Regions from separate parts of the Homo sapiens genome. Here all the other regions are linked to region 2. The links come from fine-mapping of genetic effects on gene expression. A gene starts in region 2. Each other region holds a variant in brackets. All regions are shown on one strand. Distances are from middle to middle. Region 1 overlaps RFX2 (regulatory factor X2). Region 2 holds the start of ZNF557 (zinc finger protein 557). Region 3 overlaps LOC124904625 (a long non-coding RNA gene).

Evidence for each region. PIP is the estimated chance that this variant, and not a neighbour inherited with it, causes the effect.
Region 1: its variant is the best candidate, but not a certain one, in a credible set for the expression of ZNF557 in lung (GTEx, PIP 0.79).
Region 3: its variant is the best candidate, but not a certain one, in a credible set for the expression of ZNF557 in blood mononuclear cells (TOPMed, PIP 0.76).

Annotation. Positions count from the first base shown.
Region 1 is chr19:6,081,746-6,092,550 of GRCh38, reverse strand. All of the region lies in intron 1 of RFX2 (regulatory factor X2), which reads left to right. Among named protein-coding and RNA genes, the nearest start is that of RFX2, 23 kb to the left of the region's middle. RefSeq lists enhancers at 4,770-5,269, 5,279-5,348, 5,270-5,771. The variant C/T (reference allele first, on the strand shown) is at 5,112.
Region 2 is chr19:7,064,397-7,075,201 of GRCh38, reverse strand. ZNF557 (zinc finger protein 557) reads right to left here and starts at 5,499. Exons shown (of 8, transcript NM_024341.3): 1 at 5,429-5,499; 2 at 4,549-4,640; 3 at 97-206. The coding sequence starts at 127.
Region 3 is chr19:7,088,505-7,097,813 of GRCh38, reverse strand. LOC124904625 (a long non-coding RNA gene) reads left to right here. Exons shown (of 3, transcript XR_007067110.1): 2 at 5,363-5,519; 3 at 8,363-9,309. Among named protein-coding and RNA genes, the nearest start is that of ZNF557, 23 kb to the right of the region's middle. The variant G/CACG (reference allele first, on the strand shown) is at 5,658.

The sequences.
Region 1 (10,805 bases), 980 kb after region 2:
CTTGACTCCTGCGCGGACTCGAGCCTAGCAACGGCCTGCCCCGCCCCTCTGAATTCCCTCTGGACGCGTGGCTGTAAACTCTGCTACCTTTATTCTCCAGCAGAGCACTCGTTCTTCTGCCTTCTCAGCGGAAGACCTTCCTTCCAGCAGCCCAGCATGCAGCCTGCGGGGCCACCCTCCGTCCCAAGCTGCTTTCTTGGGTCATTGACCCCCTGCTGCCATGGCCCGGGTTTAGGGACTTGAGCCCCTGCTCTCTCCAGCCCGAGGAGGGAGCTCAGTTGTGCAGCCACTAGATCCTGTTCTTGAATGTCTTCCTTGCTGTTATAGTTGGCTTCTTCTTATGGTACAAATTCTTTCTCTTTAACTCTACGTAAACAATTTAAAACCAGAATTCCTGTGACCTAATCCTCGATAAAGTTATTCATTCTTAATCTGAGCTTTTCTCCTATTTTAAATTCAGTGAATCATGGTTTTCTTTTTTAACATCCTTTAAGATTTCTGAGACACCAACCTCCACAGTTTTCCTCCCCCCACTCCCGGATGTAGAATCTTCTAGAAACTCCCTGCTCCTTTATTCTCCAGGGTTAATGTTCACTGAGGGCTTGGCCCAGAAAGTCTACAATTCTCTGACTCCCAAACTGGGACATAGTCTCATTTCAGATTCCTGATTGTAAAATGCCTACCTCCCGCAGTTCATTCCTCATTCAGTCCCTCGGCTTATTCTGTTGATGGGTCTCATGTAAACACGTTTTGCGGCTTAGACTCAGAGTTCCTGAAACAGATTTCCCCACACCTACTTCTCTCCCATCACTCGAGATTTTCACAAACAGTCTGTTAGGGATCGTGTCCAACAGATATTGTTGTTTGTTACTGAAGTTTATTTCTGAAAATGTTCGAATTGTACTTTGTACGTTCTCGTGCCTAATTTTCTCATAATTATGAGAATATTGCATTTTACTTCTCCTGAGGTGAGGAATGCAGGAATGCTTTTAGTCTCTATATCATTGTTTCTCTTCGTGGCTGGCATTTGCCAGCACTCAGCGTCATCTTCTTTTTTCAATTGTGATAAAATTCACATACAATTCACCTTTTTTTTTTTTTTGAAGATAGGGTCTTGCTCTGTCGCCCAGGCTGCAGTGGGGTGGTGCGATCATGGCTTATTGCAGCCTCCACCTTCTGGGCTGGGACTATAGGTGCACGCCACCATGCCTGGCTAATTTTTTGTAGAGACAAGGTCTCACTATGTTGCCCAGGCTGGTCTCAAACTCCGGGATTCAAGCAATCCCCAGCCTCAGCCTCCCAAAGTGCTGGGTTTACAGGCATGCGCCACCACACCCAGCCCAAAATTTACCATTTTAACCACTTTAAAATGGTTTTCATTTGGTGGATTTTAGGATTTTCACAGTGTTGTGAAGCCATCATCACTCTCTAATTCCAGAACATTTCCATCACCGTGAAAAGAAACTCCATACCTATTAGAAGTCGATCACAGTCCCCTACTCCCAGCCCCTGGCAAACACCAAGTCTGCTTCTTGTCTATGTGGGTTTTCCTATTCTGAATATTTCCTGTAAATAGAATCATACAATATGTGACCTTTTTCGTGACTGACTTCTTTCACTTGTGTGTATATAAATATATATTTAAGCCCTGGAAGGTTGGGTAATATTGTTTTGCAGTTCATCCACATTGTAGCCTGTGTCAGAGCTTCATTCTTTTTTATGGCTGAATAGTATTCCACTCCATGGGTGGACCACATCTGTTTATGCATTCATCCCTTGATGGGCATTTGGGTTGTTTCTACCTTTTGACTATTACGAATAGTGCTGCTATGAATATTTGTGGACAAGCTTTTGCCTGGACATATAGCTTCATTTCTTCAGGGAATATACCTAGGAGTGGAGTTGCTGAGTCGTATGGTAACTGCAAGTTAACTGCCAAATTGTCCTTTCACAGTCCCACCGGCAGGGAGTGAGGGCTCCAGTTTCTCCACATCCTCACCAACACTTTTATTTTTCCCTGTTTTTAGTATAACCAGCCTCGTAGGTGTGAAGTGGTGTTTCATGGTGGTTCTTATTTGTGTTTCTGTAATGACTGATGATGCTGAGCCTCTTTTCATGTGCTTTCATCTGTCTATAGCTCTTCTTTGGAGAAATGTGTATTCTTTTTTTTTTTTTTTTTTGAGACAGAGTCTCACTATGTCACCCAGGCTGTAGTGCAATGGCGTGATCTTGGCTCACTGCAACCTCACCCGGCTGAGAAATTTGTATTCAAAGGTGTTATCTGGGCTGGCATGGTGGCTCATGCTTGTAATCTCAGCACTTTGGGAGGCTGATGCAGGAAGATCACTTGAGCTCAGTAGTTCAAGACCAGCCTGGGCAACATGGTGAAACCCTGTCTCTATGAAAAATTCAAAATGCAAAAATAGCCAGGTGTGGTGGTGTGGGCCTCTGGTCTCAACTACTCCAGAGGGTGAGGTGGGAGGACCTCTTGAGCCTGGGACGTTGAGGCTGCAGTGAGCGATGTACATGCCACTGTACTCCAGCCTGAGTGACAAAAGCGAGAACCTGTCTCAAAACAAACAAACAAACAATCCAAAGATGTTATCTTATACAAACAATCCAAAGATGTTATCTCATATAATAATTTTCTCTAATCCACAAGTTTCTGTTCCTCTGTGAAATGCCCAAAGACCCTGAATCATGAAGGTCCCCAGCACATGTAAGAGCTACACAGGGTGGTGGAGGGAAGGGAGGGTGACAGTTCATTCAGATGCTACAACAAAAATATTAGAGACTGGCTGGCTTCTAAACAACAGGAATGTGTTGCAGTCAGCTCTGGAGGCTGGGAAGTCCAAGATCAAGGCACTGGCAGATTCAGTGTCTGGGGAGGGCCTGCTTTCTGGTTCGGCTTCTGCCTTCTAGCTGTGTCCTCACGTGATGGAAGGGGCAGGGGAGGTCTCTGGGGCCTCTTTTGCAAGGACCCTAATCCCATTCCTGTGGGTGCCATGCTCATGACCTAATCATCTCCCAAAGGCCCCACCTCCAGATGCCGTCATATTGGGGGTTAGGTTTCAACATGTGAGTTTTGGGGGGACACAACATTCCAACCATAGCACAGGGTCAGAATCCAGAGGACATGAGGGCTGGCCTCCCCCTTCCCTGTGACATTGCTCCAGCTCCTGCCCGTGCACACTCCCTTTTCAGAGACTGCCCAAAACCCCACATCCTCCGCCACTGAGATGGAGACAGGACAGGAGTGTTGGTCTTCACCCCCAGAGTGTCCCTGACCTGCTGGACGCAGATTTCTAGCGTGGTTATTTGTCATTACATGGGCTATTTGATACCTGCCCTTTTATTTATTTGGAGTTATTTTAGGCTCTGTTTTAAAGACATGAGTCCAAACATCTGAGTCTAATACAGAGTGGGCAAACTAGCCCATGGGCTAAATCCAACTCACTGCCTGTTTTTGTACAGCCCATGAACTAAGAATGCTTTTTTCCTACATTTTTAAGTAGTTGGAAAAATCAAAAGAAGAATATTTTAGGACATACAAAATTATCTGAAATTCACATTTCAGTGTCCATAAATTGTGCTTGCTTCAGCAGCAAATATACTAAAACTGGAACCATAAATAAAGTTTTATTGGCACACAGCCACAGTCATTTCACCCTACAATGGATGGGGTTGAGTCATCTTGACAGCGAGCGCTTGACCTGCAAAACCTAAAATATTTACTATTCCACATTTTACAAAAAAAGCTTGCCACCCCCTGGTCTAACGCACATTACTTGGCTATATGTGACTAGTACTCATGTGTATATGAATGTGATGCTGATTTTGAGGTTTATAAAACCCCTTAGGCTCTTCAATGGTGTTTAACATATTTTTGCTTTCTCTAAGAGAGAGAGGAATAATATTTACTTTGTTATCTTCTCCAGTTTGTTGTAATTAAAGAAGAGTCTTTGGCTACATCCATCTTGCAGGATGAATTTCGTTGCCTTCTTATACCTATGAGAACTGTGCCTTTAAAAAAAAATGCTGGGCTGGCATGGTGACTCAAGCCTGGAATCCCAGCACTTTGGGAGGCTGAGGCGGGTGGATCACCTGAGGTCGAGAGTTCGAGACCAGTCTGACCAACAGGGAGAAACCCCATCTCTACTAAAAATACAGAATTAGCGGGGCATGGTGGCACATGCCTGTAATACTAGCCACTCAGGAGGCTGAGGCAGGAGAATCGCGGGAGGCGGAGGTTGCAGTGAGCCGAGATCACGCCACTGCTGTCCAGCCTGGGCAACAAAAGTGAAACTCCGTCTCAAAAAAAAAAAAAAAAAAAAAAAAAGCTGTAGTGCCCTGGCCCTTCTCTGTGGCATTCTTCTTTGTCTTTCAGGCCCTGGCCAGCCTGGGTTAGGCTTAGAGCAGCACTCTGGGCTGGGAAGGGCTCTGTGTTCAGGGGTCATTGCTTCCTCTTTGTTCTCGTCTCTGACTCACCAACATGCAGCTCTGGGTGACTGTCCCTTGAGGACTGTGGCTTCCTGGCGGGTTAAGCCAGTTCTGGAAGTGGGTGTGCAGCTTATGGCAGCCAGGAGTGGTTTCTGAAATTAATTACTGCTCTAGATGATGATGTAAGGAGTGAGACTCCTGGGGAGAAACTGCCCATGTGGAGAAACCCAGCACCTGTAACCCATCACCTTCGTATCAAAACACGCTGTCCACCTAAGAAGGGCGAATGTGCCATGGCTAATCAAGGAAAATAATTTCTGTTTAGCTGTCAAAAAAGCTATTTCCATGATATCAGCCCTTTGATTTGGAGCTGAAACCTCCAAATCAAAATAAATTCTGCAGCATCTGAATCTTTTGTTGTAGCTGGATTTTTTAGAGTGAAGGCATTGCTAGGAATTACTGACAGAGTCCAGGGAGGGGCTAGAATTGGAATCGGGCTTCTCTGAGGTGAGAAAGTTAGTGGGGACTCGCCTTAATGCCTGGCTGTGGAACTGATCAAGGTCACTGGCTAGATGTGGTAAATCAGATGGGCTTCCTTGGGTTGGATGGGTGGATGCTAGAAAAAACTGCACTTCTCTCTAAGTCCCTTTACTCGCCTCTGGCAGGCATCT[C/T]CCTCCTGGGCTTCCTCTGATCCTCGATCCTCAATTCCTGGGCTTGGTGGACTGTGGGTTAATTATCTCCTAAGTGTTCTTTGAAAGCAGAGCCAATTATCAGCACAGTCCCTTCCCAGGCTGTTTGAATTCCTAAATACAGGGCAGTGGGAGGGAGGAGTAGCCACCTGTGGACTGTGGCTCCCTGCTGGAGACGGGTGTGCGTCTCGCTTCGCCCCTGTGAAGGTTATGCCTGTCGCCCTGTCTATCATGAGTCTGTCTCTGCAGCTTGTGGCTTCTGACCCGCTGCGACCATCTGCCTGTGCTCAGTCCCCACCCAGGAAGTGAACTGATTCTGTCACTTTCTTCTAAAGACCACAGATCTGCCTGGTTTATACAACGAAGCTCGTCTGAATTGGAGTCCTCAAATTTGTGAATTTAAGTTTTAAAAGATTAAAAAAAAAAAGACATACTGCTGTAGCCCAGTGGTTTTTAATCTTTCATCAGTCTGGATCTCTTTCAAAATCTGCTCAACACTGGGAATTTCTCCTCAGAAGAACAGGCATGGAAGGGCAAAAATTACATGACAATCTACGTTAGTAGTAAACAGAAAAGGCAGAGGTGCCCATGTGATGTTTGTATCTCTGTAGAGTTGTGTGGTCAGAACAGACAAATTCCCTTTGCAAATAATAGTAAGGAAGCGCATCACTGAAAACAGGAATGAGCCGTGTGCGTGGATGCATCCATTACTGTCAAAGGGGAGACACAGAAGTCATCTAATTCCTGTGAGCTTCTCTTGCAATTCACTTTTACAGTGCCCTTTCCGGCAAGATTAGATTCTTGTGTGTTATTACTTAACTTTAATTATTTGCTTATAATGCAGTCATGCCATGCATAACATTTCCGTCAACAGCAGACCACATATACAAGTGATCCCATAAGATTATAATGCTGTATTTTTCCTGTACCTTTTCTATGCTTAGCCATGTTTGGAGATACAAATACTTACCACTGTGTTACAATTGCCTGCACTGTTCACTGCAGTCACATGCTAGACAGGTTTGTAGCCTGGGAGCAATAGGTTATACCATACAGCCCAGGTGTGCTACGTAGGTTGTAGCGTCTAGGTTTCTGTAAGTATCACTCTGTGATATTCGCACAATGATGAAATTGCCTGAGGTTGCATTGCTGAGAACGTATCCCTGTCAGGAAGCGACTCATGGCCGTATTTTACTCCTGCAAGGGTGCCAAGATCATTCGATGGGGTAAATACAGTCTTTCCAATAAATGATGCTGGGAAAACTGGGTTTCCACATTCAAAAGAATGAAATTGGATCTCCCCTGCCTTTTTTTTTTTTTTTTTTTTTTTGAGACAGGATCTTGTTCTATCACCCAGGCTGGAGTGCAGTGGTACAATCATGGCTCACTGCAGCCTCGGCCTCCTGGGCTCAAGAGATCCTCCTGCTTCTGCCTCCCAACTAGCTGGGACCACAGGCATATGCCACCATGCCAGGCTAATTTTTAAATTTTTTATAGAGACGAGGTCTCACTATGTTGCCCAGGCTGGTCTTGAACTCCTGGCCTCAGGCAATCCTCCCACCTCACCCTCCCAAAGTGCTGGGATTACAGGCGTGAGCCACTGTGCCCAGCCAGGACTTTTATTTTATAACATACACAAAAATTAACTCAAAATGGATCAAAGACCTAAACATAAGAGCTAAAACTGTAAAATTCTTAGCAGAAAACATAGGGAGACATCTTTATGACACTGGATCTGGCAATGATTTCTTGGATAGGACATCAAAAGCACTCACGACAAAAGGAAAAACAGAAGGATTAGGCCATCAGCGTTCAAAACTTTTGTGCATCAAAGAACAGTAGCAACAGAGTAAAAAGACAACCCAAGGAATGGAAGAAAATGTTTCCAAATCATTTCTAATAAGAGGTTAATATTCAAAATAGATAAAGAATTTCTGTAACTCAGCAAAAAAATTTTTTAATGGGCAGAGGACTTGAGTAGATATTTCTCTTTCTTCAAAGAAGATATTCAGATGGCCAATAAGCAGTTGGAAAGGTGCTTCATACCAGTTATCATTGCAGAAATGCAAATCAAAACCCTAATAAGATACCACTTCACACCCATTACGATGACTGTTACCCAAAAGAAGAAAGACAGAAAAATGTTGATAAGAATATGGAAAAATTGGAACTGAACCCATGTGAACTGTTGGTAGGTGTGCAAAATAGTGTAGCTGCTTTGGAAAACAGTATTTGTACACTCAGACAGGGATTTGTACACTCATGTTCATAGCAGCATGATTTACAATAGCTAAAATGTGGCAGCAACTCAAGTGTCCACCAACAAATGAATGGATAAATAAAATGTGATCCATCTATACAATGGAATACTATTCAGCCTTGAAAAAGGAAGGAAATTCTGACACAGGCTGCAACATGGACATTATGCATTATGCTTAAGGACATCATGCTCAGTGAAAGAAATCAGACACAAAAGGACAAATCCAGCCGGGCGCAGTGGCTCACACCTCTAATCCCAGCACTCTGGGAGGCCAAGGTGGGTGGTGGATCACCTGAGGTCAGGAGTTTGAGACCAGCCTGGCCAACATGGTGAAACCCAGCCTCTACTAAAAATATAAAATTAGCCGGGCGTGGTGGCAGGCACCTGTAATCCCAGCTACTTGGGAGGCTGCAGCAGGAGAATCACTTGAACCCAGGAGGCAGAGGTTGCAGAGAGCCAAGATCGCACCACTGCACTCCTGCCTGGGCAACAAGAGCGAGATTCTGTCTCAAAAAAAAGAAAGAAAGAAAGAAAAAAAAGGACAAATCCAGTGTGATTCCACCCCTAGGAGGTCCCTAGAGTCATCAGATCCATAGCGACAGAAAGTAGAATGGTGGGTGCCAGGGGCTGGGGAGGGGGTAGGGAGTGAGTGTTTCATGGGGACAAAGTTTCAATTTGGGAAGATGAGAATGTTCTGGAGATGGATGGAGGTGATGGTTGCACAACAGTGTGAGTGTGCTTAATGCTACTGAACTGTATATTAAACATGGTTAAAATGGTAAATTGTACATTATGCACATTTTACCACAATTAATGATAAAGAGTAATTGACTCGTCATATTTCCCAGCATTACTTTACTAGGAGGCATATGCTTTTTATGGTTTGCCTCTAGTAAGTCCCTACGCTGTCCTGCTAAAGCAGAGGATCACAGCTTTAATAAAGACCCTAAATATTTATCTTGCCTGTGGTCATGTATAGCTGAACAATGCACAGCGAACTCATTTAGTTTCCATGCGCTTAACTGGGCTAACTCTGCTTTTGAGCCTAATGGAAAGCTTGGGGCAGGTGGAGGACCGGTTCTTTAGCACTCACAGACGATTCCCACACCACACTCCCATATCCGGTCTTCTCTGCCGAGAATTCTCCCTGCCCAAGAGGTCTGGGGTGCCCTGGACACGTGTGCTCATCTCCTGTATTTGGAGATCTGGGGCTGGGAAGAGAATGTAAAGCAACCTAAACAGTAATTTAAGAATGGAGAAAATGGGACTAAATTATTCAGACACGTTTGAGTGCCTACTCGCTAGCAGGCATTTTCCGCTGCCTATAATTATGAGTAAGACATGTTCCCCCAAAGGCCATCCAAGATAGGGGTCACAGCCTGGGCAAGATGGTGAGACCCCATCTGTACAAAAAATTAAAAAATTACCCGGGCATGGTGGCACATACCTGTGGTCTCAGCTTCTGGGGAAGCTGAGCAGGAGGATCACTTGAGCTCTGGAAGTGGAGGCTGCAGTGAGCCATGTTTGCACCACTGCACTCCAGCCTGGATGACAGAGCAAGACCCGGCCTCAGAATAAATAAATAAATGAATAAAAATTAAAAAAAAAAAAAACGGGTCAGCAGACTACATCTAGCACACTACTGTGGGTTTTTATTTTTGTTTTTAGTTTCCACGAGTTGAGAATATTTTTTGCGTTTTTAAATGATTGGAAACAAGACAAAATATTTTGTGACACATGAAAATGATATGAAATTAAATTTCAGTGTCCATAAATAAAGATTTATTGGAACAGCACCAGCACCAGGGTCAGAACTAGCATGAGGCAGTGAGGCCCTCGCCTGGGATGCAAAATTTAAGGCAGTGCCTACAAAAATCCACAGTCATCAAGATACACAATGTTTTAATGCAGTATTTTAAAAAATCAAAATAAATGCCAAAAAATTTCATGATGAAGGCCGGGCACAGTGGCTCATGCCTGTAATTCTAGCACTCTAGGAAGCCAAGGCGGGTGGATCACTTGAGGCCAGGAGTTCAAGACCAGCCTGGACAACAGGGTGAAACCCCGTCTCTACAAACAATACAAAAATTAGCTGGGGGTAGTGGCACGTGCCCGTACTCCCTGAGCCCAGGGAGGTTGAGGCTGCAGCGAGCCGTGTTTGTGCCACTGCAGCCTGGGCAACAGAATGAGACCCTGTCTCAAAAAAATAATGGGAAAAAAATTCCATGATGAGCAAAATGTTGAAATTTTACATAAAGACAGGATCAGCACTGCTGCTTCTTTTTCCTCTTTGCCCCAGGCTCTAGCATGGCTCTGAAAAGCGCTGAGTGCAGCGGCCACACTCACTCCTCCTACTGTCCAGAGGCAGAGTTGAGTAGTCTCAACAGAGACCTGCAAAGCCAAAAATGTGTATTTTCTGGCCCTTATAGAAAGTTTTCCAGTGGCTAACACCTGTAATCCCAACACTTTGGGAGGCCAAAGTGGGCGGATCCCATGAGCCCTGGAGTTCAAGACCAGTCTGGGCAACATGGCAAAACCTCATCTCTACAAAAAATACAAAAACTAGCTGAGAGTGGTGGTGCACGCCTGTGGTCCTAGCTACACGGGAGGCTGTGGTGGGAGGATGGCTTGAGCCCAGGAGTTAGAGGATGAAGTGAGCTGTGATCGCGCCACTGCACTCCAGCCTGTGTGACAGAGAAAGGCTCTGTCTCAAAGAAAAAAAGAAAACTTTCCAACCCCTGATAGACATCAATTCAGGAGAGAAGGACCCTCCTCTTACTATATTAATCCCCAGCAATGACTATAACCAAACTAGATTCAACATCTGGTCCATTTCCCCTGTCTACCATTTTTTTTTTTTTTTTTTTTGAGACAGGGTCTTACTCTGTTGCCCAGGCTGGAATGCAATGGAACGATCTCAGCTCACTGCAACCTCTGCCTCCTTGGTTCAAATGATTCTCCTGCCTCAGCCTCCCTAGTAGCCTCCCTAGTAGCTGGGATTACAGGTGTGCACCACCACACCCAGATAATTTTTGTTTTTGTTTTTGTTTTATTTTGTTTTGTTTTTGAGACGGAGTCTCACTCTGTCGCCTAGGCTAGAGTGCTGGAGTGCAGTGGCATGATCTCAGCTCACTGCAAGCTCCGCCTCCAGGTTCACGCCATTCTCCTGCCTCAGCCTCCAGAGTAGCTGGGACTACAGGTGCCCACCAGTACACCCAGCTAATTTTTTGTATTTTTTAGTAGAGATGGGGTTTCACTGTGTTAACCAGGATGGTCTTGATCTCCTGACCTCATGATCTGCCCGCCTCGGCCTCCCAGAGTGCTGGGATTACAAGCGTGAGCCAACGCGCCCGGCCAATTTTTGTATTTTTAGTAGAGACGGTGTTTCACCATGTTGACCAGGCTGGTCTTCAACT
Region 2 (10,805 bases):
GCCTCACCTGCTCTGCCCAACCCCCTCCCATCCCATGCTGTGGGTCAGGACCTTTCAAGCCTGGACTCTGAGAACTGCCAGGACCCCATGACTCACCGGCAGTTGGGGGCAGGACGACAGCCGCCATCCTGTGACTCCGACAGCAACAGGGCAGCCGGGAAGCAGGACGCTCCTCCTTTATCCCGCAGCGCTCTCAGGACAGCACCCTGGAAGAAATGGGGGGAACACTCTGCCTCGGTCACCCCCTCCAGCCCGTGCCCTGCGTCGGTCACCCCGTCTCCTGCCCGTGCCCTGCCTCGGTCACCCCGTCTCCTGCCCGTGCCCTGCCTCGGTCACCCCCCCTCCTGCCCGTGCCCTGCCTCGGTCACCCCCTCTCCAGCCCGTGCCCTGCCTCGGTCACACCCCCCCTCCAGTCCGTGCCCTGCCTCGGTCACCCCCCTCCAGCCCGTGCCCTGCCTCGGTCACCCCCTCTCCAGCCTGTGATCTGCCTTGACCACCCCCTCCTCCTGGTTTCCACCTCACCCAGCTCAGATGTCACTACCCCTCATTTCAGTTGATTTCCTCCTCCCCACTCCCCACTCTCATGCCAGCCCAGCAGAGCTCCAGCCATTTTCTATCAGAGACCCTAGGTTCCTGCAACTTCTAAGAATCGATCTGTAAGATACACAAATGTAAAAGTTGTGTAAGATTATTCACTGTGGCATTACAGTGCACCCATTAAAAAAAAAAGAGAGAAGATCTCTAGATATCAATAGAGGTTATTATCGTCAGTAAATTTAAGGGGAAAAAAAAGTACCAAATAGCATATATGGAATGTTTCCTTTTTTATGAGAAAAGAAGGGCTGTGTGTGTGTGTGTGTGTGTGTGTGTATATACACACAAAGATGAAAGCGGCTGGCCAGGCGCGGTGGCTCCTGTCTATAATCCCAGCACTTTGGGAGGCCGAGGCGGGCGGATCACGAGGTCAGGAGATCGAGACGATCCTGGCTAACATGGTGAAACCCCATCTCTACTAAAAAAATAAAAATAAAAAATTAGCTGGGCGTGATGGCACACACCTGGAATCCCAGCTATTTGGGAGGCTGAGGCAGGAGAATGGCGTGAACCTGGGAGGCAGAGCTTGTAGTGAGCCGGGATTGCACCATTGCACTCCAGCCTGGGCAACAGAGCAACACTCCATTTGGAAAAAAAAAAAAAAAGTGGTCAAGGGTGTGTGTGGGAGGGGTTGGTGGGGGCGGGGGCAGGCGCTGTCTGCAGTTAGAGACTTGTAAGAGTTTGGGCCAGGTAGACAAAACAGAGCTGTAGAGGGTGGACGGTGCTGGCTATTCATGGAAGGCAGGGCCACTCAGTCTCTCTAGGAATTTGTATTGAGATGTAGCATTCAGGCCCTGGCTTCCTTCTAGATCTCTTGCCCAGGGAATTTATCCTGGGTGACCCCCATACCCCCAATCTCCGGGGAGAGAAGGATTGGGAGAGGACTGAATGGAGAGCCATTCCCCACAGGCCAGTTGTTCGCTGGTACTTGGAGCCAAGCAGAGATGGGAGGCTCTTTCCCATTCCTGCCTGCAGCCTCACAGCCCCCACCCTCCAGTTAATATAGCTGCCAAGTGTCTCTGACATCTGGTCTCTGTGGTGTTAACAGAACCCCCAAAATTCACATATACATGTGAAAAGTTTATATATTTGTACTTATATGTAAAAGCCTGAAAGTTTTAGTATTATGACATGCAAGAAAATCTGTATTATAGCCAGGCACAGTGGCTCACGCCTGCAATCCCAGCACTTTGGGAGGCCGAGGTGGGCGGATCACCTGAGGTCAGCAGTTCAAGAACAGCCTGGCCAAGTTGGTGAAACCTTGTCTCTACTAAAAATATATTTAAAAAATTAGCTGGGCATGGTGGTGGGTGCCTGTAATCCCAGCTACTTGGGAGGATGAGGCAGGAGAATCGCTTGAACCCAGGAGGCAGAGGTTGCAGTGAGACCAGATCATGCCACTGCACTCTAGCCTGGGTGAGAGTAAGACTCCATCTCAAAAAAAAAAAAACAAAAAAAACCAAAAAAACAAATATCTGTATTATTTCTCTACAGTTCCATGTATTTATACTTGTTTGTGAGTGGGCTCTTCCAGCAGCTGTGTTGCACAAACGGTAGAGAAGAGAACTCTGCACAGGTGAGCCCCTGGTGGGTCGCCCCCTCTTCCCTCCCAAGTCCAAACCAGGCATAGCATTTCCTCACCCAGTTATTCCTCTCAAATCCCTTCTGCAGCCCTAGGGTCCCGACGTTGACCCCTCATTCACGTTTTATTGATACCTGCCCCCAGCTGGGTGCTGGAGATGGAGGGGAGGAAGATCCCTGTCATCTAAGAACTGGCTTTCTGGGAGCAGGACACACACACAGACCTGCTGCTGCATTTCAGAGTGATATGTGATATGGCAGAGGGGCACATGGCATCCAACCCAGGATCTGGGAAGAAGGGGACTGGGAAGCCTTGGAAGGAAAAACACTAAGAACATTTGAATTGAGTCTTGAGAGTCGAGGTAGGGTCTTGCTCAGTGGAAAGTGCACGTGCAGAGGCAGGAAAGCAAGCTGCTTAGGAAGCCAAGTTCACAGTTTGGAGCATGTGGACAAATAAGGGGCCAGAGTGCACGGGAAAGGTTGTATTTTGAAAGGTATTATAAAGAGTGGTGAGGAGTTTGAACATGAGAGGCAGTGGAGAGCCAGCAAAGGCTTTTCAGGCAGGCGAGTGACTAAAGCAAATTTATCTTTATGTATTTATTTTGAGACAGTCTTGCTCTGTCACCCAGGCTGGAGTACAATGGTGAGATCTCGGCTCACTGCAACCTCCGCCTCCTGGGTTCAAGCAATTCTGTCTGCCTCAGCCTCCCGAGTAGCTGGGATCATAGGTGCCCACCACCATGCCCAGCTAATTTTTGTATTTTTAGTAGAGACAGTGTTTTGCCATGTTGGCCAGGCTGGTCTCGAACTCCTGACCTCAGGCGATCTGCCCACCTCAGCCTCCCAAAGTGGTGGGATTACAGGTGTGAGCCACTGTGCCTGGCTGTATTTTTTTTTTTTTTTTTTTTTTTGAGACGGAGTCTCGCTCTGTCACCCAGGCTGGAGTGCACTGGCATGATCTCGGCTCACTGCAAGCTCCACCTCCCGGGTTTATGCCATTCCCTTGCCTCAGCCTCCCGAGTAGCTGGGACTACAGGCGCCTGCCACCACGCCCGGGTAATCTTTTTTTTTTTTTTTGTATTTTTAGTACAGACGGGGTTTCACCACGTTAGCCAGGATGGTCTCGATCTCCTGACCTCGTGATCTGCCTGCCTTGGCCTCCCGAAGTGCTGGGATTACAGGCGTGAGCCACCATGCCCAGCTTTTTTTTTTTTTTTTTTTTTTTTTGAGATGCAGTCTTGCTCTGTTGCCCAGGCTGAAGTGCAGCGGTGCCATCTTGGCTCACTGCAGTCTCCGCCTCCCAGGCTCAAGAGAGTCACCACACCCAGCTAATTTATATATTTTTAGTACAGACGGGGTTTCACCCTGTTGGCCAGGCTGGTCTTGAACTCCTGACCTCAGGTGATCCACCTACCTCGGCCTCCCAAAGTTCTGGGATTACAGACAGGCTTGAGCCACTGCTCCTGGCCACAAATTATCTTTTACAATAGCCGTTCTGGCTTCATTGCAATGGACAGATGGGAAGAGACTAGAACAATGCCGCCCAGCAGGGCTTTCTGGGATGATGGAAATGATCTTAATCTTTGCTGTTCAATAGGGGCATTAACCACATGTCGCTGTCAAGCACTTGAAATGTGGTTAGTGCGACTGAGAAGCTGAATTTAAAATTTTATGGAATCTTAATTGGTCTACATTTAAATTAAAACAACCGCATGGACCAGCAGCTACCTTATTATACAGCATAAGTCTACAGGCTGGCAGGCCTGTTAGGAAAAGAAAAAAATAAAAGAAAAATTGAGATGTCTTGGAAGGTTGAAAAAAAAACTTTTAAATAGTGTTTACATGTTTTGTGTACTGATTTGCATATAGCTGTATTTACTGACTTATTTTGACACACATTATCACACACCCCTTAGTATCCTTCTCTTGAATATAAGGCATCAAACAAATAATTTTTAAGATACCCTCACTCGTGGCTCACACCTGTAATCCCAGCACTTTAGGAGGCCGAGGTGGGTGGATCACCTGAAGTCAGGAGTTCGAGACCAGCCTGGCCAACATGGCAACACCCCATCTTTACTAAAAATACAAAAATTAGCTGGGCGTGGTGGTGCACCCTTGTCATTCCAGCTACTTGGGAGGCTGAGGCAGGAGAACTGCTTGAACCTGGGAGGCAGATGTTGCAATGAGCTGAGATCGCACCACTGCACTCCAGGCTGGGCAACGGAGTGAGACTCTGTCTCAAAAAAAAAAAAAAAAATACCCTCACTGTTAGTGAGTCCTTGTGTTTACAACCTGAACACAGGAAAAATCCATTCACAGGTTTTCTACACAGTGGAGTCTTGCAACTTGCAGGTTCTACACGGTACCTACCTGATCATACAGAAGTCCACGGATCAGTGAGGATAGGTGAAACTTGAGGCTGGTTTCAACACAAATCTGAGCTTGAATTATACTTTTTTCGTCTAAATAAAAAGGGCACAAAAATCGCTTATGAGGCCTTTTGTAGGGAGTAATATGTACGTATAGTAAAATGTATTTACTGAGACTAATACAGTTGTTGCATAGAAAGACCACCCCATTCACTTAAAAAAAATTGATTTAAAGAATAAGAACCCAGGCTACTGGCTGTGCCTGAATTCACCAGATTCCTATCCAGCCATCTGGTCCCTAAAATGGGACAAGAAGCTTAAAGCTGTTTTCATCTGACTTGCTTAACTCATTTGGCTGGAGATTGTATGGTGACTCCAGATGCTTTAAATTCGTCACTTTAGGCCTTATAAGTGGACTCGGCTGAATTCTAAATAATTTCTACAGTGTATTCAGGACTGCAGAGATTTTAATGCCCTCCAGCAGGGTTTCCCAACCTGGGCACTAATGACATTTGGGGCTGGATGAGTCTTTGCTGGCGGCGGCTGCTTTACGCGCTGCAGGATGCTGAGCTGCTAGCATCCCTGGCCTCCACCCTCTAGATTACAGTAGTAGCACAGTCCCTCCTACCCTCCATTTTGTGACATCCCAAACCGTCTCCAACTATAGCCAAAAGTCCCCTGGGGCGCAGAATCGCCCCGGGTGAGGGCGACAGGGTGAGGACGACAGAGTGAGGATGACAGGGGCGCGGGGCCCGGACACCGGAGGAAACAGCAGCTTCGGGCTTAACTGAGCGCACAGCCCGAGGCCTCAGGGGCGGAAACCCGGCTCCCGGGAGGGACGCAGGCCCGCGGCTGGGGCCCCTCTCTGGACTCGGACTCACGGAATGAAGCACCTCTCGCGGAGACCGAAAGATTCTCCCAGACGCTGCAAGCGCGGCTCTTCTCACAAGACACAAGCGCGCTTCCGCTTCCGGTCTCCGGCTAGCCACACTGCACCTCCGCTTCCGGCTCCAGCTGGTCCCAGCCCAAAATGCGGCGTGTCAGGACCCCCGGGTTCAGGCTGCAGGTGCAGCAGCCGCGCACCCCAGCCTCCGGCTGAGGTGTTCTAGTTTGCTTAGTTATTAATAGAACCAGGTTGGGCCCTGGCTAGGGACAGCCGCGGAGGCAGGGTCGTCCTGGCGCGGGTCTGTGGCAGGGTTGGGGGCGGAACTAGCTCTTGAGCGGGGCTGTGGGCGGTACCAGGCCTGGAGGCGGGCCTGAGTGTTGACGGGGACCAGTTCCGGGGGCGGGGACCAACTCTGGAGCGGGGCTGTGGGCGGTACCAGGCCTGGAGGCAGGGCTGAGTGTGGGTGGAGATCAGCTCCGGGGGTGGGGAGAAGTTCTGGGGCGGGACCGTGGGCGGTACCAGGCATGGGGGCGGGGCTGTCAGGACAGAGACTAAGTTCCGGGGCGAGGTTGTGGGCGGGCATTAGGTTTGATGGGCGGATCTTGCTGTGGGTTAATACCAGGTTTGGTGGGCGAGTATGTGGACAAGATAAGGCAGTGGTGGGGCATGGAATGGGGTTGAGCTAGTAGGCTGAGAGGACAAGACTTGGTGGAGGTCAGTTTTTGGGTGTAGGGCTTTTTGTGGATTTTAAAACTGTTCAGGTAGCAGGATGCAAAATGAACTCTTTAAAGTTTTCTTCAGTCATTTCTCCACATTCACCGCCTGTTAAAATGATATAGCCACACATTTAGGGCGTGTGTGTGTGTGTGTGTGTGTGTGGCTTTTCGTTTGTTTGTTTTGAGACAGGGTCTCACTCTGTGGCCCAGGCTGGAGTGCAGTGGTGCAATCATAGCTCACTGCAGCCTCGACCTCCTGAGCTCAAGCCATCCTTCCACCCGGGCCTCCCACACTACCAAGCCTGACTATTTTTGTATTTGTTTGTAGAGAGGAGGTCTGTGTTGCCCAGGATGGTCTAGAACTCATGGCCTCAAGTCATACCCCACTTCGGCCTCCCAAAGTGCTGAGATTACAGGTGTGAGCCACACCACACCCAGCCTTTTTGTGTGATTTTGAGCTTCCTAATTTCTTTCAAAAATGGGATCATGTATGCATATTTCTCCCATCCAGAGGGGGACGAGGGGAGGGAGGACTAGGGAGGGATGTCTCCAAGTGAAAGCCAAAGCTGATTAATTGTCTAGTGCACATCTGGATCTACTGAAAAGAGAACTACATTTCTGGTGGAGAAAATAGGTGTTGGATTCATAGGAAGAAATAAAAAAGGAAATTTTAAAATTTAAGAGATCAAAAGAAAAAATGAGAAAAAATTATTAATGACATACTACTTGTTACATGTCTGGCTAAGGTTTAGATGCTACAAATGGTAAATATTGATGTCATAAAATGATAAACATTGAATTTTGATTTATCCAGATTCCTTAAATGATTATGTTTGGTGAGGAAAATTAGTTTTACAGTACGTAAGAGTTATGTGCTAATTGTTTCGGAGAAGAAAGTAATTCAATATAGTTTAAAGCTGATAAATGAAAAAGCAGTATAAATACCTAACTTACAAATATGTAATTACTATCAGAAAAAAAAAAAAGTTGCTTCTAGGAGCCAGGCTACAGGGTGAGGAAGGGAGCTTTTCGTTGTGAAAATTAAGATGTTATTTGAGATCTATGTGTGAACACATACAGCCTGAATTTGTATGCAAAAGGAATCGCTAAACTCTAGGGAAAAAATGTGAATATGATTCACTTTACAACAATGGAATGTATTTGAAGACTCTGGAATTCAAGAATTAAAAGGAAAAAAAACCAAAAACCCTATGGCCATCCTAGTGGACAAATGAATGGGACATTACTTTCCAACCTGCCTGGTAATAAACAGTTTTACATACATTATCCCTAAATATTTTCACAGAGACCTATAAGGAAGGTGTTACTATCTATCACTATTTATAGATGAGGAAACATATGGTGATCTGTGTGCTAAATTTTTCATATTTCATTGTGGGCAACAAGCCATCCAGGTGCCGAGGCAAGAGACCGAGGGCATGAGCTGTTCCAGTATAATAAAATATATAAAATAAGAATAGTTATACTAGATACAGATCATAGATATGATTATATGTGAATAGCATTAATCATTAGTTTGTAGCAATTACTCTTTATTCCAATATTATAATAATCCTAACTCTACAATCATAACCTAGGAAAAACCAGGCCATACAGAGATAGGAGCTGAGGGGACATAGTAAGAAGTGACCAGAAGACGAGTGCGAGCCTTCTGTTATACCCGGACAGGGCCACTAGAGGCCTCCTTGGTCTAGCGGTAACGCCAGCGGCTGGGAAGACGCCTGTTGCCAAGCGGACCTTGGTCTAGCGGTAGTGTCAGTATCAAGGAAGAACACCCGCTACTTAGCAGACGGGGCAAGGGAGTCTCCCTTTCCCCAGGGGAGTTTAGAGAAGACTCTACTCCTCCACCTCTTGTGGAGGGCCTGACATCAATCAGGCTCGCCTGCAGTTATCTGGAGGCCTAACGGTCTCCCTGTGATGCTGTGCTTCAGTGGTCACACTCCTGGTCCTCTTTCATGTTCCATCCTGTACACCTGGCTCTGCCTTCTAGATAGCAGTGGCAAAATTAGTGAAAGTACTAAAAGTCTCCGATATGCAGAAATAATGGCGTAAACTGTCTCTCTCTCTCCCTCTCTCTCTCTGCCTCGGCTGCCAGGCAGGGAAGGGCCCCCTGTCCAGTGGACACGTGACCCACGTGACCTTACCTATCATTGGAGATGGCTCACACTCCTTACCCTGCTCCTTTTTCTTATATCCAATAAATATCAGCACAGCCTGGCATTCAGGGCCTCTACCAGTCTCTGCATCTTGGTGGTAGTGGTCCCCCAGTCCCAGCTGTCTTTTCTTTTATCTCTTTGTCTTTATTTCTACAATCTCTTGTCTCCACACACAGGGAGAAAAACCCACTGACCCTGTGGGGTTGGCCCCTACATTTCATAGTTCTTAATGTTGTTTTATTTAAAAGTTTTTAATTAGATTTTTAAAATTAATAAAATAATATATGCTCATTCTCACAAATATGGAGTATGTAAAACACAATTCAAAACTCCCTTTCCCGGGTGTGGTGGCTCATGCCTGTAATCACAGCACTTTGGGAGGCAGAGGTGGGTGGATCACTTGAGGTCAGGAGCTCGAAACCAGCCTGGCCAACATGATGAAACCCTGTCTCTACTAAAATTACAAAACAAATTAGCCGGGTGTGGTGCCTGTAATCTCAGCTACTCGGGAGGCTCAGGCAGGAGAATTGCTTGAACCTGGGAGGCAGAGGTTGCAGTGAGCCGAGATCACGCCATTGCACTCCAGACTGGGCAACAAGAGTGAAACTCCATCTCAAAAAAAAAAATTAAAGTAAAAAATAAGATAAAACTCCCTTTCCCTTCTCTAATTTGACTTTGAGGTGACCATTACTATAGTCCTTGCTCTACAAAAAATTAAACTTAAGACATGTAATAATATAATTTACTACATAAATACTAGAAAAAGCATTTTATCACAATATATATTCCTATATTGAGAGTTTTAAAATAGTTTTTAAAAATACTATAATACTATATACTAATTATTCTGGAGATTACTTTAAAAAATTAACAGACCATGGACTTTTTTCCAGGTAGATATGAGTGTTTAGCCAAGTCTTAAATAAGTGGTATGATATTCCAATTAATTGCTGTACCAAAATTTATTTAATCACTCATCTACTAACACATAGTCATATTATGTAGTCTTTTTTTTTTTTTAATTTTTTAAAAAGAGGCAGGGTTTTACCATGTTGCTCAGGTTGGTCTTGAACTTCTGACCTCAGGTGATCCACCTGCGTCGGCCTCCCAAAGTGCTGGGATTACAGGCGTGAGCCAGTGGACCCAGCCGAATAAATCAGATTTAATATCTAGACAGAGATGGATGCATACCTATAAAAATTTATAACCTATAAAAATTAATGTTAGAAAGTTTAATTTACCATCTAATTTCTAATTTTACTAACAGTAATAATATATATATTTTTGAGACAGGATCTCTCACTCTGCTGCTCAGGCTGGAGTGCAGTGGCTCCATCATGGCTCACTGTAGCCTCGAATTTCTGGGCTCAAGTGATCCTTCTGCCTCAGCCTCCTGAAGAGCTAGGACTACAGGTGCACACCACCACATCTGGCTAATTTAAAACATTTTTGTAGACATAGGGTCTTGCTATGTTATCCAGCTGGTCTTGAACTCCTAGCCTCAAGTGATCTGCTCACCTCGACCTCCTGAGTAGGTGAGATTACAGGTGTATGCCACCATGCCCAGCTAATTTTTCATTTTTTTCTTTTTCTTTTCTTTTTTATGGAGACAGGCTCTTGCTATTTTGCCTAGGCTGGTTTTGAACTCCTGGCCTCAAGCAATCTTCCTGCCTTGGCCTCCCAAAGTGCTGGGATTACAGGCATGAGCCACCACTGCTCCTGACCTGGTCCTTGTACTTTGAAAAGGGCATGACATGAATGAATATATTTAGTACCTCGATTGTGGTGGTGGCACCATAAGTGTGTGCATATGTCCAAACCCATCAAAATGTATACATTTATTATTTATTTTTATTTTTGAGACCAAGTCTCCTCTGTCACCCAGGCTGGAGTGCAGTGGCAGAATTTGATGGGCAAGCTCCACAATTCTTCCACCTTGCGATCCAGCAAGTAGGAAAAAAAAAAAAAAGGTCAATCCAGAATTTACTAAAGTAAAAGTCTTCTGTGTATTGGAAAGGGTTCACTGTCTTGAGGAAGTGTTGGAAACCAGAGATTTCTCTCTTTTGGTGTGAAAGGCAGAAGTAAATTCTTTAGTAAATTTTCTCTTTGTATCTCTAGCATCTGACAGTCATTGGTCTCTGGTTTTTTTGTTTTGTTTTGGTTTTTTGTTTGTTTGTAATGGCGCCGTCTCAGCTCACCACAACCTCCGCCTTCCGGGTTCAAGCGATTCTCCTGCCTCAGCCTCCCAAGTAGCTGGGATTACAGGCCTGCACCACCACGCCCGCTAATTTTGTATTTTTAGTAGAGACGGGATTTCTCTATGTTGGTCAGGCTGGTCTCAAACTCCCGACTTCAGGTGATCTGCCCGCCTTGGCCTCCCAAATTGCTGGGATTATAGGTGTGAGCCTGGTCTCTGGATGCCCCTGAGAAAGTCATATTCTAGGATGGGGTACTTCTCTGTGTTGCGGAATTCCTGGCG
Region 3 (9,309 bases), 23 kb before region 2:
CAACTGGGAATGCAGCTGATAAGGGTCTGCTGGGTGCAGGAAATGTTGGAAGGTTTGCTTGCTGGGCTGTATCACCTCCTGTATTATGGGAGCTTAGAGTATTTGCCAGCTTGTCAGGACTACCATCGTCTTCCATGTTCTGAGACTGGAGTACCCAACATTCCCCTAGCAGGGGACACTTGGCTTGATAGGGCTCTATCAATCTATATTGTGAGGGTAGAGATACTCATATTGCAAGGGGAGGCTGCAGGAGTTGCCTGCTGGGGCTAAGATTATTCCTTGTGTTTGGGATAAAGGAGGGGTCACCGCAGGGGCAGTCAACTCATGTTGGGGGAGACGGGATTTGCATTCTGGGCTCCCCTCCTCGTTTATGTTAAGGGTGTTGCTTGCTGATGCTTCTATTAACTCTTACTTTGGGATAATGGGAAGAGAGATAGTTTTCTGGGGTATGAGTTTGTCACTTATGTTGTAGAATCTGGGGGGCTGCCTGTTGAGATTCTGACCATTGCTTGTTTTGGGTGTCATTGCTGGGGATACTTATTTATAGTCTTGGGAAGACAAGGGATGCATGTTGCAGCGGTAGTGGGTAAGAATGGTGGCATTTGCTGGAGTTCTTTTTTTTTTTTTTTTTTTTTTTGAGACAGAATCTTGCTCTGTCTCCCAGGCTTGAGCGCAGTGGTGTGATCTTGGCTCACTGCAAACTCTGCCTCCCGGGTTCAAGAGATTCTCCTGCCTCAGTCTCCTGAGTAGCTAGGACTACAGGCACGTGTCACCACGCCCGGCTAATTTTTGTATTTTTAGTAGAGACGGTTTCACCATATTGGTCAGGCTGGTCTCGAACTCCTGATCTCGTGATCCACCCGCCTTGGCCTCCCAAAGTGCTGGGATTACAGGCGTGAGCCACCATACCCAGCCTGGAGTTCCTTTCTTGAGTGTGTAGAGGATTGAGGGTTGATTGGTTTTTGGAGTTTCCATCATTAATGTAGGAGCGATACGGGGAATCACTTGGCGAAGCTTTCATTGTCTCTGATGTTGGAGGTAACTGGAGGGCCAGTGCCTGGGGCTTCCATTTTTTTCTAGTGTTGAAGGGTCAAGAGCATTTATCAGATAGAGGCCTTACTGTGTATTGTTTGGGGAGAGGATGGAGGGATTATTGGATGGGGTTCCACTTATCTCTAGTTGGGGAGGGTCATATTCTGGGTCTCCGCTTGCCTGTACTGTTGGTATAGACTGGGTAGGCCATTGGGCTTGGAGTCCCCATTCTTTAGTGTTGAGGGGCATCTGAAGGGGTCATTTCAGGGACTTCTGTTATAGTTTTGGACGTGACTGAGGGGTGCTTGCTGGAGTAGTTTCGCGATGACGGAGGTCTTCATGTTTGGACTCCATCTTTTGTGTTTGTAAGTGATTGAGGGGTGGAGATCTGGCATCCTGTTGCCTCTTGTTTTGAGGGTGACTGGTGGTTACCTGCTAGGGCTTCTGTCAGCTCTACTGCTGTATGCAGATTGTGAGAATCACTTGCTGGGGCTTCCATAATCTCTAGTCTTAGGGGGACTGGGAAATGGCTTGCCATGCTTTCTATTATCTCTAGTTTTAAGGGACCAGTTCAATGTGATTTAAAACTCTTTTTATTTGAAAAAAAAAAAAAATTAGGGCTGGGCACGTTGGCTCACGCCTATAATCCTAACACTTTTGGGAGGCCAAGGCAGATGGATCACTTGAGGTCAGGAGTTTGAGACCAGCCTGGTCACCATGGCGAAACCCCATCTCTACTAAAAATACAAAAATTAGCTGGGCGTGGTGGTGCACACCTGTAGTTGCAGCTACTTGGAGGCTGAGGCAAGAGAATTGCTTGAACCCAGGAGGCGGAAGTTGCAGTGAGGTGAGTGTGGGCAACAGAGTGAGACTCCGTCTGAAAAAAAAAAAAAGATTTAGACGTATAAAAGTGTTAAAACTATACAGGCTTGATTTATACAGTCAATATTTATTTGTATTTGCTCACATTTTATCTTTCCTGATTATCCTTATATATTTCTGGAATTGCTTCCACATGGAATAATTTTCCTCCAGCCCCAAAACTTTCCTTCTTTCTTTCCTTCTCCTTCCTTCCTTCCTTCCTTCCCTCCCTCCCTCCTTCCTTCTTTTTTTTTTTTGAGACAGAGTCTCGCTCCATCGCCCAGGCTGGAAAGCAACGGTGCGATCTCAGCTCACTGCAACCTCCACCTCCTGGGTTCAAGCAATTCTCCTGCCTCAGCCTCCCAAGTAGCTGGGATTATAGGCGACCGCCACTACGCCCAGCTAATTTTTTTTTTTTTTTGTAGTTTTAGCAGAGATGGGGTTTTGCCATGTTGGCCAGCCTTGTCTCGAACTCCTGACCTCAGGTGATCCACCTGCCTCAGCCTCCCAAAATGCTGGGATTACAGGTGTGAGCCACCGTGTCTGGCCCAAAACTTTCTTTAGTGTTTCTTGAAGTGCAGTTCTGCTGGTGATGAACTATGTTGTTGCTGAAACACCAGGGGTTCAATCTAGGTCCTGCTGCTCACCACTGCACAGAAAGCCTATCGCTGAGACAATGAGTATTGCCAAGGAAGAAGGCTTTAATCAGCTGCTGCAGCTGAGGAGGTGGGAGAACAATCTCAAATCCATCTCCCTGACCAACTAAAATTTGAGGTTTATATAGCAGGGAAGAAATGTTACCATGTGTGGGAATACAGGAATTAGGGAAGGGTAAGGAAGAGGAGTTGGTCAACAGGAAGCAGGTGGTCAGTTAGGCAATCATGATGGGTGATGGGTCTGATGTCTCACTGTACAAATGCAGTATTCTGGTGCGTTTCAGCTCCTAGATACTATCTGGGAGGCCTGATGGTTGGTTTCCTGAGAAAGGAACTCAGATAAGATAAATGTAACTTTCTTAAGTTTTAAGATTGGGAAGATCAATTTGTTTGTTTATTCAAGGAAACCATAAACATCAGCAATATGGGAAAATTGGGCCAGTTTCACTTTCAGGTATTTAAAAGAAAAATCTATTGGATTTTGGATATCAATTCTTGTCCTTCACTTGGCGCTAAGTTCATGTCCCTACATAAGATACAAAGGGGGCCGGGCGCGGTGGCTCCCGCCTGTAATCCTAGCACTTTGGGAGGCCGAGGTGGGCGGATCACAAGGTCAAGAATTCAAGACCAGCCTGGCCAACATAGTGAAACCCCATCTCTACTAAAAATACAAAAATTAGCCGGGTGTGCTGGCGTGTGCCTGTAGTCCCAGCTACTCGGGAGGCTGAAGCAGGAGAGTCGCTTGAATCCAGGAGGCGGAGGTTGTAGTGAGCAGAGATGGCACCATTGCACTCCAGCCTGTGTGACAGAGTGAGACTCCATCTCAAAAAAAAAAAAAAAAAAAAAGAGATACAAAGGAAGCTACTGTTGGGATAATGTCATTTGGTCGTATTCCCATCAGAAACCTTAAGCTTTGGCCACAACCAGGACTCTTCATATAAAATGGTGATGGTGGTGGTGGGGAACCAGGGAAAAAGCGGAAAAAATTAAAGATTTTTTAAAAAACCCAAACCCAAAGCATAGCTGTCTTCTATTCCTGCTTTGGGACCTGGTCTTCAGGACTGAATTTAATTCTTCCACATCCATTCCACATTCTGCTTTCTCTCTGCCAGTCCCTTATCTGAATGGATTTTTATTTTTATTTTTTTTTGGGATGGAGTCTCACTCTGTCGCCCAGGCTGGAGTGCAGCGGCGCGATCTCGGCTCACTGAAAGCTCTGCCTCCCGGGTTCACGCCATTCTCCTGCCTCAGCCTCCTGAGTAGCTGGGACTACAGGCGCCCGCCACCACGCCCGGCTAATTTTTTGTATTTTTAGTACAGACAGGGTTTCACTGTGTTAGCCAGGATGGTCTCGATCTCCTGAGACCGGCCCTGAATGGATTCTTTACCCTGATAGAGTGATCTTATCTCGGATCAGGTTTTCTGGGAACAGATTTTGTGCTGGCAATTTTTTGTTTATTGGATAAAACTCCTGGGAACAACATCTTTAAAGGCATGCGAGAAGCGGAGGGGACAGATGAGGCTGACATGTAACTTGTCAACTGAGGCTGCCGTCGATCCCACAGGGAGTTCTGGTGCTGGGGTTGCCCTTCAGGGGTGTCCTACATTGAAACAAAGGCACTGGACCTTTGTACCCCCTACATCAACCAGTCACTGGAAGTAGGCAACCCCTGGAGAGAGAGCATAATCTTGGGTTGGGCACTTTCCTCTGGGCCTTGGGGAGTTCCCAGAGAGGACAGCAGCATCACCATCATCAGGCAACACCTCCAGCAGCTAGGGGAGTGCCTTAGTCTTTTCTTTTTTCTAGATGGAGTCTTGCTTTGTCACCAGGCTGGCGTGCAGTGGCAAGATCTTGGCTCACTGCAACCTCCGCCTCCCAGGTTCAAGCGATTCTCCAGCCTCAGCCTCCTGAGTAGCTGGGACTACAGGCACACGCCACCACGCCCAGCTAATTTTTTTTTTTTTTTTTGAGATGGAGTCTTTGTCGCCCAGGCTGGAGTGCAGTGGCGCCATCTCGGCTCACTGCAAGCTCCGCCTTCCAGGTTCACGCCACTCTCCTGCCTCAGCCTCTCGAGTAGCTGGGACTACAGGTGCCCGCCACCATGCCTGGCTAATTTTTTGTATTTTTAGTAGAGATGGGGTTTCACCGTGTTAGCCAGGATGGTCTCTATCTCCTGACCTCGTGATCCGCCGGCCTTGGCCTCCCAAAGTGCTGGGATTACAGGTACGCCCAGCTAATTTTTGTAGTTTTAGTAGAGACGGGGTTGCACCATGTTGGCCAGGATGGTCTTGATCTCTTGACCTCGTGATCCACCTGCCTCAGCCTCCCAAAGTGTTGGGATTACAGGCGTGAGTCACCACGCCTGGCCTTAGTGCCTTAGTCTTAAAGGAAGAATCTGGGAAATATGCCACTGAAACCATGCCTAAAGTGTTAAAGCAAAGACTAGCAGAAATTCTTGATGTGTTGGAAGCTGGTTCCTTCTGGTGGGTTCGTGGTCTCGCTGACTTCAAGAAAGAAGCCACAGACCTTCACTCTTAAAGATGGCACAGACCCAAAGAGTGAGCGGTAGCAAGGATTACTGTGAAGAGCAAAAGAACAAAGCTTCCACAGCTTGGAAGGGGACCCGAGCTGGTTGCCGCTGCTGGCTGGAGTGGCCAGCGTTTATTCCCTTATTGACCCCTCCCATGTTCTGTTTCTGTCCTATCAGAGTGCCCTTTTTTCAATCCTCCCTGCAATTGGCTGCTTTCAGGATCTTGCTGATTGGTGTGTTTTACAGACTGTTGATTGGTGCATTTTACAATCTTCTTGCTAGCTACAGAGCGCTCACTGGTGCGGTTTACAATCCTAGCTACAGAGTGCTGATTGGTGTGTTTTACAATCCTCTTGTAAAACAGGAAAGTTCTCCAAGTCCCCACTCGACCCAGGAAGTCCAGCTGGCTTCACCTCTCATTGAGTTTGCAGGATGGCAGGTAAAAAAAGAAATAACTTGCTAAAACGCTGAAACTGCCTCCACTTGTAACAAAACTGCCTAAAATCTGTGAGAACCCACATGGCCAAATGGAGTTTGTGCAGAATGAGCTTGCTGATGTCACAGTGCAAATTTCCAC[G/CACG]TGTTTCATACAAACTCCCTTGAGTTAGTATGACTTTGCACATGGAACCCATGGGGAGGCATGAAGAGATCATTGCACCTGCCTGAGGACTTAACAGACCTTTCCTCCCACCAATCGCCTGCTAATCCCAGAATCCACGCCCTACACCTTTTCTAAGAAAATTATTGCCTTAAAGTCAGCATAAGACAAATTTGAGCTGGACTCCTGTCTCCTTGTTAACTTGCAATACAAACCTTTCCTTTTCTCAAAAATCTGATGTCATAGTATTGGCTTCTAGCACATTGGGTGAAGAGCTCTTTTGCTGGGTAGTGCCACCACTGTACCTACTGTGGTCCACCATGTGTGCCACTCAGATGCCCTGCATTCATTTTGTTTGTTTTGTTTTTGAGACAGAGTCTCCCTCTGTTGCCCAGGCTGGAGTGCAGTGGTACCATCTTGGCTCACTGCAACCTCTGCCTCCTGAGTTCAAGTGATTCTCCTGCCTCAGCCTCTGGAGTAGCTGGGACTATAGGCATGTGCCACCATACTCAGCTATTTTTTGTATTTTTAGTAGAAATGAGGTTTCACCATGTTGGCTAAGCTGGTCTCGAACTCCTAACCTCAAGTGATCTGCCCGCCTCTGCCTCCCAAAGTGTTGGGATTACAGGCGTGAGCCACTGTGCCCGGCCCCAGGATTCTTAAAGTAAGTGCCCTCAGGATCCAGGTTGGTCCCGTTGCCTGGAGAAACTGACAAGAGGAAGATCAGTGGGACAAACTGTAGACAGCCCTTTCCACCTGAACAAGTCTCAGAGATGCAATTGATGCTTATCACACTCCTTTACTTGCACCTTCCAGATTCCCTTTACCCTTGACTAGGGTGAAAATTCTAGATTTCCTTCTCACCTAGATCCTGCTGGTCTAGGTGGCTTACCTGGAGAGCTGCTCCAGATCCTTATGCCTACGGGGTCTTCACCATGCCCTTCTCAGGACATAGCTGGTGAAATTTTTTTATCTTTTTCTTTTTTGGAGACAGAGTCTCGCTCTGTTGCCCAGGCTGGAGTGCAGTGGCGCGATCTCGGCTCACTGCAAGCTCCGCCTCCTGGGTTCACGCCATTCTCCTGCGTCAGCCTCCCAAGTAGCTGGGACTACAGGCGCCTGCCAACGCGCCCAGTTAATTTTTTTGTATTTTTTGTAGAGACAGGGTTTCACCATGTTAGCCAGGCTGGTCTCGATCTCCTGACCTTGTGATGTGCCCACCTCGGCCTCCCAAAGTGCTGGGATTACAAGCGTGACCCACCACGCCTGGCCAAAATTTTTTTATCTTTAAAATTGGGGAAAGAATAGTAAGAGACATCCCAATGGATTCCGTGAATGCCAAATGTTTTCCTCCCTGCACTCATCATGTAACAGCAGCCTCAGATTCTATGGATGATAGCATTAATTACCTAAGTCAGTATGGTGACTTCTTTCCTTGTGTGCTGGTCTCATAGAAGTCACAGTTTAACATCCGATGAGACTCTTACTGTGTCTCTTGGTGGAAGTGTTTCCCTCTGGGAACCAAGTCCTTTAGGTTACTTCTCTTTTTTCTTTTTTTTTAGATGAAGTCTTACTCTGTCACCCAGGCTAGAGTGCAGTGGCATGATCTCGGCTCACTGCAATCTCCGCCTCCCGGGTTCAAGAGATTCTCCTGCCTCAGCCTCCTGAGTAGCTGGGATTACAGGCGCCCACCACTGTGCCTGGCTAATTTTGTATTTTTAGTAGAGACGGGGTTTCACCATGTTGGCCAGGCTGGTCTCAAACTCCTGACCTCGTGATCCACCGACCTCGGCCTCCCAAAGTGCTGGGATTACAGGGGTAAGCCACTGCGCCTGGCCAGGTTAATTATTTCTTTTGCTTTCCTCCCCAATGGCTCTGTTCCTCATCCTATACAGGAAACACTGGTGTTGGCAACTATGTTAGGCTTCATCGGGGAGTATCAGTGCATGGACACCACCCCAGGGTAGCTGAGCAACTGATAGAATTCCTGGGCTTGGATATGAACTTTCCATCCAGGTGATGGGCATGAGTAGATTCTGAGAAGCAAAAGGAGTGACCAATACTGGGTATCTTCCATTCGCCCCAGCAGATTCACCTCCTCTACCCTGCTGTACTTGGGATGATTAGTTACTATGAATGCTATCAACGAACTCCCTTACCTTATTGGCTTTTGGTTGAGTTTGGCAAATGGGGAACCCAAATATGATATAAGAAGAATGAAGGACAAGGAGGGCTGGCCCTGGCTATTTCTTTCTCTTTTTTGGTGGTGGTGGGGGGGTGGGGATGGAGTTTCACTCTGTCACCCAGGCTGGAGTGCAATGGCATGATCTTGGCTCATTGCAACCTCCACCTACCGGGTTCAAGCAATTCTCCTGCCTCAGCCTCCTGAATAGCTGGGACTACAGGCGCATGCCACCACACCCGGCTAGTTTTTGTATTTTCAGTAGAGAATGGGTTTCATCATGTTGGCCAGGCTGGTCTTGAACTCCTGATCTCAAGTGATCCACCCACCTCGGCCTCCCAAAGTGCCAGAATTATAGGTGTGAGCCACTGTGCCTGGCCGACCCTTACTATTTCTTGCAGAACTCGAGGCTGGATGTTGCCCCTCACTGACCTCCTGTCAGCTCCTGGAATGCAGCCCTCTCCTCGCTTGAACAACAACTTGCAGTTCTCTTCCTTTGTCCCTTCAGGCTTATGGGTGTCCTACGATCTGCCATTTGTTTGGAAGCTGGAGAACCAAGAAAGCTGGTAGTCTTGCTCCAGTCCAAGCTCAAAGACCTGAAAACAGGGGAGCCAACAGTGTAAACCCCAGTGTGAAGTCCAAAGGCTTGAGAACCAGGAGGGCCAATGGTGTAAGTTGCGAGTCTGAGTCTGAAGGCTGGAGAACCAGAAGCACCCGTATCTGAGGTGGGGAGAAGACCGATGTTCCATTTCAAGTACCTTTTGTGGTTTCCCTACATCCTGTTCACAATTCTGTGAGGAGCCCCTTGATATAAACTGCGCTTGAATCATCCCAGTTGACGTGTGTGTCAACTGTTTCCTGCTGGGACTCTTGATATTCCAACTTCCTGAACATGTAAGGAAAAGCCCTAACAATGACCTATAAAACCCCACAAGATCAGGATCTGCATCTCCGATTACCCTCTAATCCCTGAATCCCTATTTTACCTGAGTCATACTGGCCTCTGTGCTGTGGGTCTTTGCATGCCAACAGTCCTCTTGCCACAAGTTCCTACTCAATAGTCTCTCCTCAAATGCACCTTAACTGGGGGCCTTTTCCTTCCTATGCTACATAAAATGGAAAGTCCCCAGCCCTCCGTAACTCTCTCACAATGCTTTATTTTTCTGCACAACATGAATATTGTTGATTTTTCTTTTTCGATGGAGTCTTGCTCTGTTGCCCAGGCTGGAGTGCAGTGGCGCGATCTCGGCTCATTGCAACCTCCACCTCCCAGGATGAAGCGATTCTCCTGCCTCAGCCTCCTGATTAGCTGAGCGCACCACCACACCCAGCTAATTTTTTTGTATTTTTAGTAGAGATGGCGTTTCACCATGTTGGTCAGGCCGGTCTCAAACTCCTGACCTCATGATCTGCCCCAGCCTCCCAAAGTATTGGAATTACAGGCGTGAGTCACAG